2 separate regions of the Homo sapiens genome follow, and region 1 is linked to region 2. The links come from fine-mapping of genetic effects on gene expression. A gene starts in region 2. The other region holds a variant in brackets. All regions are shown on one strand. Distances are from middle to middle.

Region 1 (5,390 bases), 280 kb before region 2:
CAAGTCTTCATAGCTATCTAAATGTTTTCTGCATGTTTCTGTCCAGCACCTATGTCTGACTTCATCCCAATTTGATGATTAGGATGATGATAAACAGGATGATGAATAATACAACTATGGAGATTTAAATTAGAAGAAAAAATCTTCTTTATCTTTTTTTATTGTAAGATTTATTAATACAAATCTGTATTGTTATTCAGTTCTAGAATGTTCTAATATGCTTCTTCCATCCAAAGTTATGATTACTTCTTTACCTCATATAATATTATTACATTTTCTTACAATAAAATACATTTTTAAAATTCACTATTAACCCTGTCTGTGATGAGACAGCATAATCTTGTGGTTAATATTAGCTCAGGCTCTGTAGCCAGAAAATACGGGTGTGAATTCTTGTTGCGTCATCAAAGATACAGATGTGAGTCCTGGCTGTATCATTCACTGACTGTTTACATTTAATATGTTATTTAGCCTTCAAAACCTTTGTTTACTCATCTGTAAAATGGGATAATAATTGTACCAGCCTCCTAGGATAGGTAAGATGTTGCAGTGAAGTTTCTTGTTACGATGTATTTCCTTGATTATTTCATAAGACAGAGGAGGCATCTTTTCTGTGTTCCTCCCTTGAGATACTAAAATGGCCAGGGAGCAGGTAAGTTCCAAAGATTAGGTTTCAGACTGTCATATACAACTTGTAGTCCATCTGTGCAGCTGGAGACTAAACCAAAGTGTCACATAAACCTTTTCCTAATCAAAGTGGTTGTTCATTTATTAATGTAAATGCCCTGTGCCTTGGATGTGTGAGTCCTAAAAATACACTTCCAGGGATAAAAATAGATTTCTGGGAGTTCTGAGATGCTGCTTAATCAGAACCAGCTGCAAGCTGTCTAGAAAACGCAAGTTATATGAGCCAGATGGCTTTTGCCCTTTTTGCTTTAGACAGCATGTAATTTGGATAACTACAGCTACAGTAATACATTTTGCCAGTCACAGTGTTTGATAAACATGTTTGTTGAGAACAGCCACTTCCAATTAGAGACCCAGTAAAATGTTAATTTATTTTAATAAATTTTCCCTCTAGGGCAAGACAAAGAATACTTTTGACAGGTTACAGAAATATCTGTTCATGGAACAGAGTACTGTTCAAAAGTTATTGTATGCCAGTGATTAATTTTTCAATTTGGCATTTAGAGAATGATGAGCAGTATTCATGACCTCCCCCTCCATTTTTCTCCTTACAACCTCATGTATATATAAGAGACCAGGATTTTTCATATTTGAAATTATGTTGCTTTACGTGTAGAAAGATGGTTTAGCTAATTTTTAACTTTCTTCTACCCATGTCTAATTACTATAAACTCTGATAATAGTTACTGAATTATTGCTTGCTTACAGATGCTTATTAATGTGGTAGTTCTTGGGATTTTTCTTTTATGATCGTATTCTTTGAGAAGAAATTTTCTCTGTTAGTCTTATGTAGCCATGACTGATTTTCATCAGCTGAGGACTGCAAACGTAGTCACTGATATTGGCTGAATTCTAATTTTATTCAGCTCCTATTCAGACAAAATAGTAAAGCTAAATGTGTAAGCTATTCACACTGTAAGACCTAAACTCAGATACAGCCTACTTTTAGGAGATGTGAAACTATCAATTCTTCCATTTTCACTGGTGGCACCACTTCTTGGAAAAGCGTATTTAAGCCCTGGTTTCCCATTACAGGAATTGAAATATTCTGTGCTTTATTTCTTGAGACATGTCTACCAGGCATCATGTAACAGACTGTGAAGTACCTTTGAAGGATCTCTTGAGTCATAATTTTTCCATAATTCCAGTCCTTCCAGCTTTGTAAGTTTAGTAATCACCCAGCAGTTGTTTTTTTCCTTCCCCAGTTTAAGAGGAGAGGGTATTTCATTTCCAGGATAAGTGATATTAGAACATAAACATCATTATAATAGTAGCTACAGGTTTATTTACTCTTACCAGGAACTATGCTAATCACTTTATACATTATTGCATTTAAGCCTCACTACAACATAGTATTATAAGGTATATATTTTTATTCTGTTTTGCAGATAAGGATGTCACTATTAATATAACATTTTTATATTAATAGAGTATAATTGTTCTAGAATTATCACTAGAATGATGATTATTCAACATCATACAGAAAGTATTACAGCCAGAATTTGAAGCTACTCTTGTATTAATGGTGTGTCTGGCTCAGGATCTTTAATTCCACCCATTAAGCTATGAAAATTGGCATTTGACCTAACTAGGGCTGCTTTTTCAGAGGTAAATGCATGCCTCTGGCCATCTTCATATACTTCAAGGAATTTACAGTATTGCTTCTTAGCATTTATTTTAAGCTCAGATTGTATGTGAAAGAGTCTGATCTCTCTCATCCCACCTTGTTAGATGAATTATAACTGATGTGCTTTAAAAATAATTCATACTGCTGGGGAAAAAATCTCACTTTGATGCTTTTCCAGTATATAGTTAAGAATTACACTGATGGGTAGTAATTGAAGAAATTGGTAAGCACTTGTGTGATATGAAACAGCATAGGAAACTTATATATAATATATGATAGCCATTATATATAAGCTTATATATAATGTGTATAACATTTACAAAAGCAAAATAATACCTTTATGTTTTTATTTAACAAAGTGAGATAAATTCATTAGTGAATGCAGCAGGGCATACCTGCAAATTCTGTCATAGGTAGCAGGAAATAAAGCAAAGCATTGTTTATAAAAAGACCTCTTTGTTATGGTTCTGTCCACTCAAAGCAAACTGATGGGGGCATGGAAAAGATCTTATTACTTTTGACTATTTTGGAAGAGCATACTGTTGGTATTATTTTCATTTGCAGCTATAAAATGGTACTTCTTGAAAGATACCATAAAATAATAGAACAGTTTATACTTAAGTACTATGGTATGATAATGGGCTTATGCTGTTTGTTAGCAAAGAGTTGGTGTTATTTGTTGTTTCTTGGAAATGAAAGGGAGAAACAGATAATATTCCTTTCTAATAAATGGATTATTCTATTCTACCCTATTCTATT[A/G]GACAATTTTATATCCAAACAATTACTGAACTCTATTTTTCATATTTCACAGAGTTGTACGCAAGATCTAGATTTGAATATGAAATCTGATACCTCCGTGGGCCAGTCGAAAAAAGCATTTTGATATCATTAGATGAGAGACATTATAGACATATTAGTTCTAGAGAAAGTCCCGGTCCTTTCTTTATGTCAAGAGATTTGTGTTAGAAAGAGCCAACAAGGCCTATGCACTCAATTAATATACATCAGTTTTCTGTTAGCATGTAAGGTCCTATAGTTGGTGTTCAAGAAAAGAACATGATACATGAAAAGTGATCTTTGCCAAATGTATCCATGTTTATGCTAATGTGGGTAAATTGTTCCTCTTTTACCATGTGAAGGATTGGTAGCTTAATAGTTTGCTTTGCTTAAATGATTTTATGTGGCAGTGTTGAGGATCTGCAGAAGTGACTGTGTCCTTGCCCTCAAAGAACTTTTGGCATTTGGCACCAAAAGGGGGCACTGCTCTCTTGTGACATAAAATGTAGTCCCCGAATAGTGGGGCTTTTGAAGGTTAGTGACTCCAAAGGAAATAGTAGATGAAAGGAAAACGTATTTACTTCATCTCATGGGGGTCTTTCTTGCCTTGGTCTTCCTGAAGAAAAGATAAGCATTGGGCTGAAAATGTTTGTTATATACCCTTGGGCACCATTGGCATATTCCAAGCTGTTTTTGTCAATCATATAAATACATATTTAGACAATTTCTGAAACATTTCTCATAAAGAAAGAAGTCATTCATCTGGTATATCATATTCATATGCATGATGGCTTTCTAGAGTTGTGTCATTTCTTCACTATGGCTTCTCTCGTCTCGCACCTCTTCAGAAGGCACCCTTCCTTTCTTTTTTCAGTAAATACCACAATTTTATTTTTAGGTGTATGCAGCATGAAATGTATGTGTGTATGTGTGTGCCTGCGTGTCTGTGTGTGTGTGTGTGTGTGTGTGAGAGAGAGAGAGAGAGAGACAGAGAGAGTTTGAGAGATAGAACAGAGAGATTGATTAATTGGTTGATTGATTAGTTGGTTAGTTGGAGCTTTTCCCAGAAAGTTTTCCAACTGTTCTTATTGGCATATTTGAAAGTTTAACAAAATCTCATTAAAGTTCATGGATTTCACTGAAATCTCTTATTTTTATTAGATAATCAGTAATATTATAAGTATACATAATCTGCCATCCCAATATTTTCAAATTTTAGTTCTTTTTCTATCGTATTGGTAAGAATGTTACAGTTTCTTCCTAATGTTGGTGATAGGCATCTGTACATCTGGTTTTGTTGGAAACAACTCTGCTAAATGTTTAATAAGGTGCTCATTGTAAGTTAAAGATAGGGAATCTTTATTATATTATAGAACTACCCTGGCCTATGCACATGTATTGAGATGACTGCATGTTATTTAGCATGCAGGGATAGGTTCTGTTTTAACATATTTTGACCTATTGATGTCGTAACTTCATTAGTAGATTACCTAGTATTAAACCATTCTGGGATTTCTGATGTAAACACAATTGGACATGTTTTATTATTATTTAATATGCTGTTGGGTTTGGAATGTATTTCATCTAGCATTTTTGCCTCTATATTTGTGATACTGAATGATAGTTTTCTGTTTTGTCAGCTGGTTTTCAGGTTTTAGTGTCAGGGTTACTAGGCCCATCACTTATGATTATACAAGTTGTACACTGCCACCTATAATATTGTCATTTGCATAGTTATTATGACAGTTTTACAAAGGAGGACAGTAAAGTATCTTGAGGAAGGGACTTTTTTTTAAAACCGTATTGACTTACCATATCAACTAGCAGAATGTAACATTCTAAAACAGATTTTTAAAAAATTCCATATTTTTCCATTCCTTCAATGTTTAAAAGAATCCACGCAAAAAATCAGTCAGGTTTATTTGACAATAGTTGTTTACTTAAATTTCTTCTAGAACTGTTCATCTCTTTAGGGTTTATATATTCTACTCAGCTGGGATGATCTTTTAATTTTATTGAACTATTAAAATTCATTCTTTAACAACCAACTATACATAATATTCTTTATAATTCTTTTATTCTTTTCTGTGTTTTTCATCCCCCTTTTGTTACTTTACTATTTTATCTTTTTCTTGAATATTAAGATTTGCCTTTTGTTTTCCTCTTTTTTCCTTCTCCAAATACTTTTGGCTTTATTTACTGGAATGTAATATTTTAGTATTTGAAATTAACAACTGTTTTTATCTTTATTATTTTTTCCTCTTGCTTTCCTTAGATATAGTTTGTTCACTTTTTTAAA
Region 2 (5,390 bases):
TTTATTTGGAATATCTCAGATAATGATTTGTATCATTTTGGTAAGGGACAAGATGGTGAGACTGGATAATATAAATGCTAGACCTATATGGTTAGTTATTAATTACCTGTATTTCCTTAAGCTACTGTCTTTAAAGCCTGACTCCAATAGTGAGTCCTTTTGTAATCAAGCCTCCTTCGTTTCCTCATGAGTGAATTTCAATGATTGTTTTTCTTAATATAAGAAGTTCTTGTTCTGATCTCACCACAAAAAAAATGGTAACTAGCTGAGATGATAGATTTGTAGCTTGATTATGGTAATTATTTCACAAGGTATAGGTGTATCAAATCATCAAATTGTACACCTGAAATATAAAGAATCTTGATTTGTCAAATATACCGCAATTTAAAAAATGTTCTTTACATAAATGTTTTGTAGAATAAAAAAAAAAAAAGTTCTTCAAAAGAAATCTCAAATCTCCAAATGGAAACAGGTAAAAGTGGAGCTCCCCTGGTTCCACGGAGAACCTTTTTTGAGGAAACTTAGGCAACTCGCAGGTACCTTATGTCATGAGACAGAGTTTGAAAACTACAATTGACTATCTCTAAATTTCCTCCCAGGTCTAAAATGTGATGATAGTTACTACTTCAGTACATCATCCTTAAGGAAAATTATTAGGTCCACACTGTTTCTATCCTTTGAATTTTACACATAAATTTTGTAATCAAAAGTTTATTTGTAATATCAGATGGAATCAGATAATTGCTTTTTGTTTTTTCCACTGACAGGAACATAAGATTTTGTTGTGTAGCTTAAGTCAAACGCAGTTTGGAATATATATTTTTTAAAAATTGTAACTTACATATCCAAATACAATTTTTCAAGAAGTAGAGTATTCAGTAGAAATTAATCTGTGAAAGAAGAGGAATTCAGCAGTGGCCTATTTGATGAATGATTTAACGTGCTTATTTCTTCCCTTTCATCAAAACTCTGTGTCCCCTTGTTTGCCCCCTCTGACTTCATACTCTGGAGTTGACCAAGATCCCTCTTCCATCGGATTGTTCTGGGAATTTTGAAATAATCTGCTTTTTCCTCTCTTTCCCCTGTTGCTTCTGATGCCTTAGAATTACATTTTCCTCGCTGATTTAGTTTAGAAAAGAGAAAAGAGCTTCCATGACTAGTAGATTATCACTTTTGGGTTTGCTCTTGGAAGTGACAAGATGCTAGGATCCCTCTTTGGAATGTAAAATTTATCTCTTATATAGAAAGGATATAAATGTAGCACCAGAGACTATAAAACTCTGATACTATCTACTGTACTGTATAGCTGAACGCCACAATGTGTCTGGTAATCTATTGACTATCATAAATGCTATTTCTACAGAAAAGTTAGGAGGTCCATATTTCGGGCAACCAATGTATAGCTGAATGCAGAACAGTCATAGTTGGGTACTAACCATATATATGATTTATCCATCAACAGGTGCATATGCTCAGAAATTCTGTATCCATAAGAAATCAGACTACTTTCTTTTCCTTTTGCAAGTAAATTGAATTTAGCCTGAGAGGCTGAGGGGAAATTTTCACATATAAGCCACGGTTTTGTGTTTTGTGTTTTGTTTTGTTTATAGATATAGTACTAACTGGATGGATGCGATAAAATTCATAGGTGGTACTAAGATACAATAGGATTTGTGAAATGGACAATTGTCTTGCATAAATAGCAAGTAAAAAATCAAGCCTGTCCTTCATAAAAATTTTATTCTGGGGTGTGCTTGTTTTCCAAAAGTACCTCTGCTAAATCTCCTGTTAGTCCTGAAACTAGAAGGCAGAAAAGCTTCTAGTGCTACAGCCAACTGCAGTGTAGCCTGAGAAACAGGCAACAAAAATAGAACACCAGGATTGCTGTGCGTGGGTGAGGCAGAAACCACATTATGAGCAAAAGCTTCCAGTATTATTTTAGAACCAATACAGAGCTCTGTACTTCTCTCCTCTCTCTTCCAAAAACACATACTACAAAAATAAAATGAAATGAAATGTATGTGCATTTGCCCTCTTAGAATTATGATTCTTAATTTTTTTTCTTGCCTTCCTTTCTTTGGAAGCGAATCGCCAGTATGGAAACACAGTGTGTAAAGCAAGCTTCGAGAGAGGAAAGAGTTAATTGGTTTTAAGGCCCTGCGATAGAGAATTATGGTTGGAAAGATAGAGGCTGGACAGCTGGGTTTGCTGGGGTATTTTTAAATGCATTAATGCAGGCTCCAATCACTCGGCCATGCTTGACCTATTTTTGGCTCAGGCCGACCATTGTTCTATTTCTGTGCCTGTGGGCCATGCTGTTGTTGATTCATATGCAAATGGATTATCACTCGCTTTAGCCAACTTGAGCTGAGAGAGACTGAGAAAGGGGGAAGAGAGGCACAGACACAGATAGGAGAAGGGCACCGGCTGGAGCCACTTGCAGGACTGAGGGTTTTTGCAACAAAACCCTAGCAGCCTGAAGAACTCTAAGCCAGGTTTAATTGGTTTCTTTTTCTCGTGGGTAGACTTAATAATTTTCTACGTATTCTGACAAAGAAATAACCCCGAAGCACGTTCCTATTTCCCACCTGCTTGTAGTTTCCGGGATAACCTAAACTCCAGAGAGCTATAGCATCCACTCTGTCCTTTCTGCTTTGCACACAGGTTGGTAACATGGGAAAAGTGTCCAGGTCTTTTTAAAAGTGGATGCCCATTTGAGCAGAAAGGAAATCATTGTCGAAGTTGATCCTCTGCTGCTTCTCCTCAGGGAGGAGGGAGAACCAGCGAGGGTAGCTCCTGGGGCCGGTGCACTGAGCAGTGATGAATGTTTCATGTAGCTGAAGTAAGAGTGACTGGAATATGCTGCAGACAATTTACGAGAGTGACTCCTGTTTTTCCTCAGATGGGGTGGCTGGACGAGAGCAGCTCTTGGCTCAGCAAAGAATGCACAGTATGATCAGCTCAGGTAAGATCCTCTTTCATAACTGAGACGTTTTAGGTTTGAAAGGGGGCTGGCTTGGGAAATGCAGCTAAGAAAAGCACCTCTCTTAAGGAAATTGCTGCTTTTTCGTGTTGATGTTGCTATTTTCTTGGTGCGTCTGTAGGGTTTAACTTAGATCCCTTCCATTACTGTTTCTGTGCATATTCAGTCTGCTTAGGGACAGCAGCTTCTGAATGAAATTGCAAACTATTGCTTCTGATGAAAGATGAGACTGAGATAAGTAAAATGTAGTTGGGGGTGTTTTGCCTTTACTATGCAACTAGAAAAAGGAGCTGTGTACTGATTGTAAGCCTATTCTAATAGGACTTTAAAAATCAGGTAAGTTCATATTGGGGCTTCAGTTTAAACTGCAGCCCCGCTAGCCTGACGATTTTATATTTACTCTGTGCCTACAGAAGCACATCTATTTATAGACCTACCTTCTAAAATGTGTTTGCCACAGAGTTATAAAGGTAGTTTTCTTTTTTCCATTATGTGGCTTTTTCTCATCAGCCCCAAATGAAACTGTTTAGGATGAAATAAAATTGTTATTAGCAGATGCTTATTTTAATTTTCTTCAAAAACATGTGGGAAGTCTAGCATTGTCAGGCAGATGTGATGGCATAACACACATGTAAATGTGTTAAAAGCAGGTGCAGCGTTTTAAAGGATAATAGGAACAGATTCTAATTTCTAGTTTCTCAAGGAGATGAGCTGGTGGGAGATTGAGCTTGTCAGCCTTGTCAATTTATACTTACTAAATGAACATACTCTCCAGGCAGTATCACTTAACGTGTAATTATTGCCTTTCATATTTATTTCCTATGGCTATTTCCTAAAGCTTTGGGAACTCTTTGTTTCTGTCCTCTTCTGAATGTTTCAACCTAAAATTGGCTTAAAGTTCTCACTTAGATCCCACTTCCCATGTGGGCTTAATCGTAATTATAGATCACCGCCTAGATTTCCATGATAAGAATGCCACATAAAGCAGTGTTTACTTTGTAGAGCTAGGTGTGAAAGAAATATTCCACAGGTTGGCATGATGTCTGTTTTGGTGTTAATACACCTTCCCATATGGGGATCTATGTTTAAAGCTAGTTTTCTTTAAACCTTGGTTAGTTATGTTAATTTTAAGATCCTTCTGTTGACCCAATCTTTTCATGGAATCAGAATAAAATATCAATTTTGCATAATTTGGTATTTATACACTTAAGTGACAGGAATTATGTTAATGAATAGTGCCTGCTTAACAAAAGCAAACCTACCAGAATTTCAGTACAGTTTATTCTTATAGCTGCAAAGCTGACAAGGGCTCCGGGAGGGTTTAACAGGTATGTCTCTAATGGGACTGGTCATTTAACTTAGCATTTTATTTTTTAAAATATGGATGAACCCTTTGAAAATAACTATTTTAGAAATCTTTTCAGCACTATGCTTTATCCTTTTAGTCCTCACTTCTGTGTTACAAGTTTGATATTTTTTTTCATATGGTAGAAACATACATGCCTTCCAAGTAGCAAGTGTCTGCTGAAGCTAAGGCTGGCTACAGGTGTTTGCAAGCTTTGCTTTTTTCTCCACATCTTTGATAATCACATACAGCTTTACACCCATTTCAGTAGAGATTGTCATTTTCCTAGCATTTAATGGTTTGTGTACAAAGCAACAAGATTTTCAGACAGGGAAGTGCTTCAGGCTGTCCATGCTTTGGCCAGTTCTACAAGAAGCAACATTTAAGCAGCAGCTAGCTATTAAATGAAAAGTGATGTAGGTTAACATCAACTCCCAAAACCTGTCTGGTATAAATACATAATCACTAAGTTCTATTTATTTTTAAAATGTGAAGCATAAAAACAATTACACCCTTCCTGCCATGCCATATATTTCATATATGTTCTTAAATTTAATTCACCTAGTCTTTATTGTATACTTCCTGTGAGGCACTGGCTCTCAAAGTTGGACTCACCAGAAGCACTTTACAAAATATGATACCTAGATTCCACTCCCAGAATGCCTGGTTTAATTGGTATGGGGAACAGCCTGGGGATTGAGGTTTTTAAAATCTCCCCACCTTAACCTTCAGCAAACTGAGATTCACTGCTGTAGGGCTAGGGAACAGATGGTGATGCTGGTGAACCACTATCAGTAGGGTTTGTCCTTTGAGCTAACTGCTAAATTAGGGGTATGTTTGTCTTAATTTAGCTACAAATCTTGTTCAGCTCCCTTTTGGACCAGTGGTCTGGACGTGATTCATAGGCTTAGAAGCAGAGTCTTTGGATTTGAAAGAGAGAAAGGATGCCTGGCAGCAGTGCAAAGGAGTGGAGAGAGCACTGTTCTAGGAGTCAGACACTCTGTATTCTAGCATGAGCTCCACTGCTAGCCGATTGTGTACTGATTTTTTTACTCATCTTCA

The links. PIP is the estimated chance that this variant, and not a neighbour inherited with it, causes the effect. A credible set is the group of variants that fine-mapping cannot tell apart.
Region 1: its variant is the best candidate, but not a certain one, in a credible set for the expression of HDAC9 in whole blood (TOPMed, PIP 0.66).

The regions. Positions count from the first base shown.
Region 1 is chr7:18,212,071-18,217,460 of GRCh38, forward strand. It overlaps a transcript of HDAC9 not described here. Among named protein-coding and RNA genes, the nearest start is that of MIR1302-6, 87 kb to the left of the region's middle. The variant A/G (reference allele first, on the strand shown) is at 3,074.
Region 2 is chr7:18,493,360-18,498,749 of GRCh38, forward strand. It overlaps HDAC9 (histone deacetylase 9), which reads left to right and starts at 2,390. Exons shown (of 26, transcript NM_178425.4): 1 at 2,390-2,664; 2 at 2,903-2,965. The coding sequence starts at 2,944. RefSeq lists an enhancer at 2,119-2,168.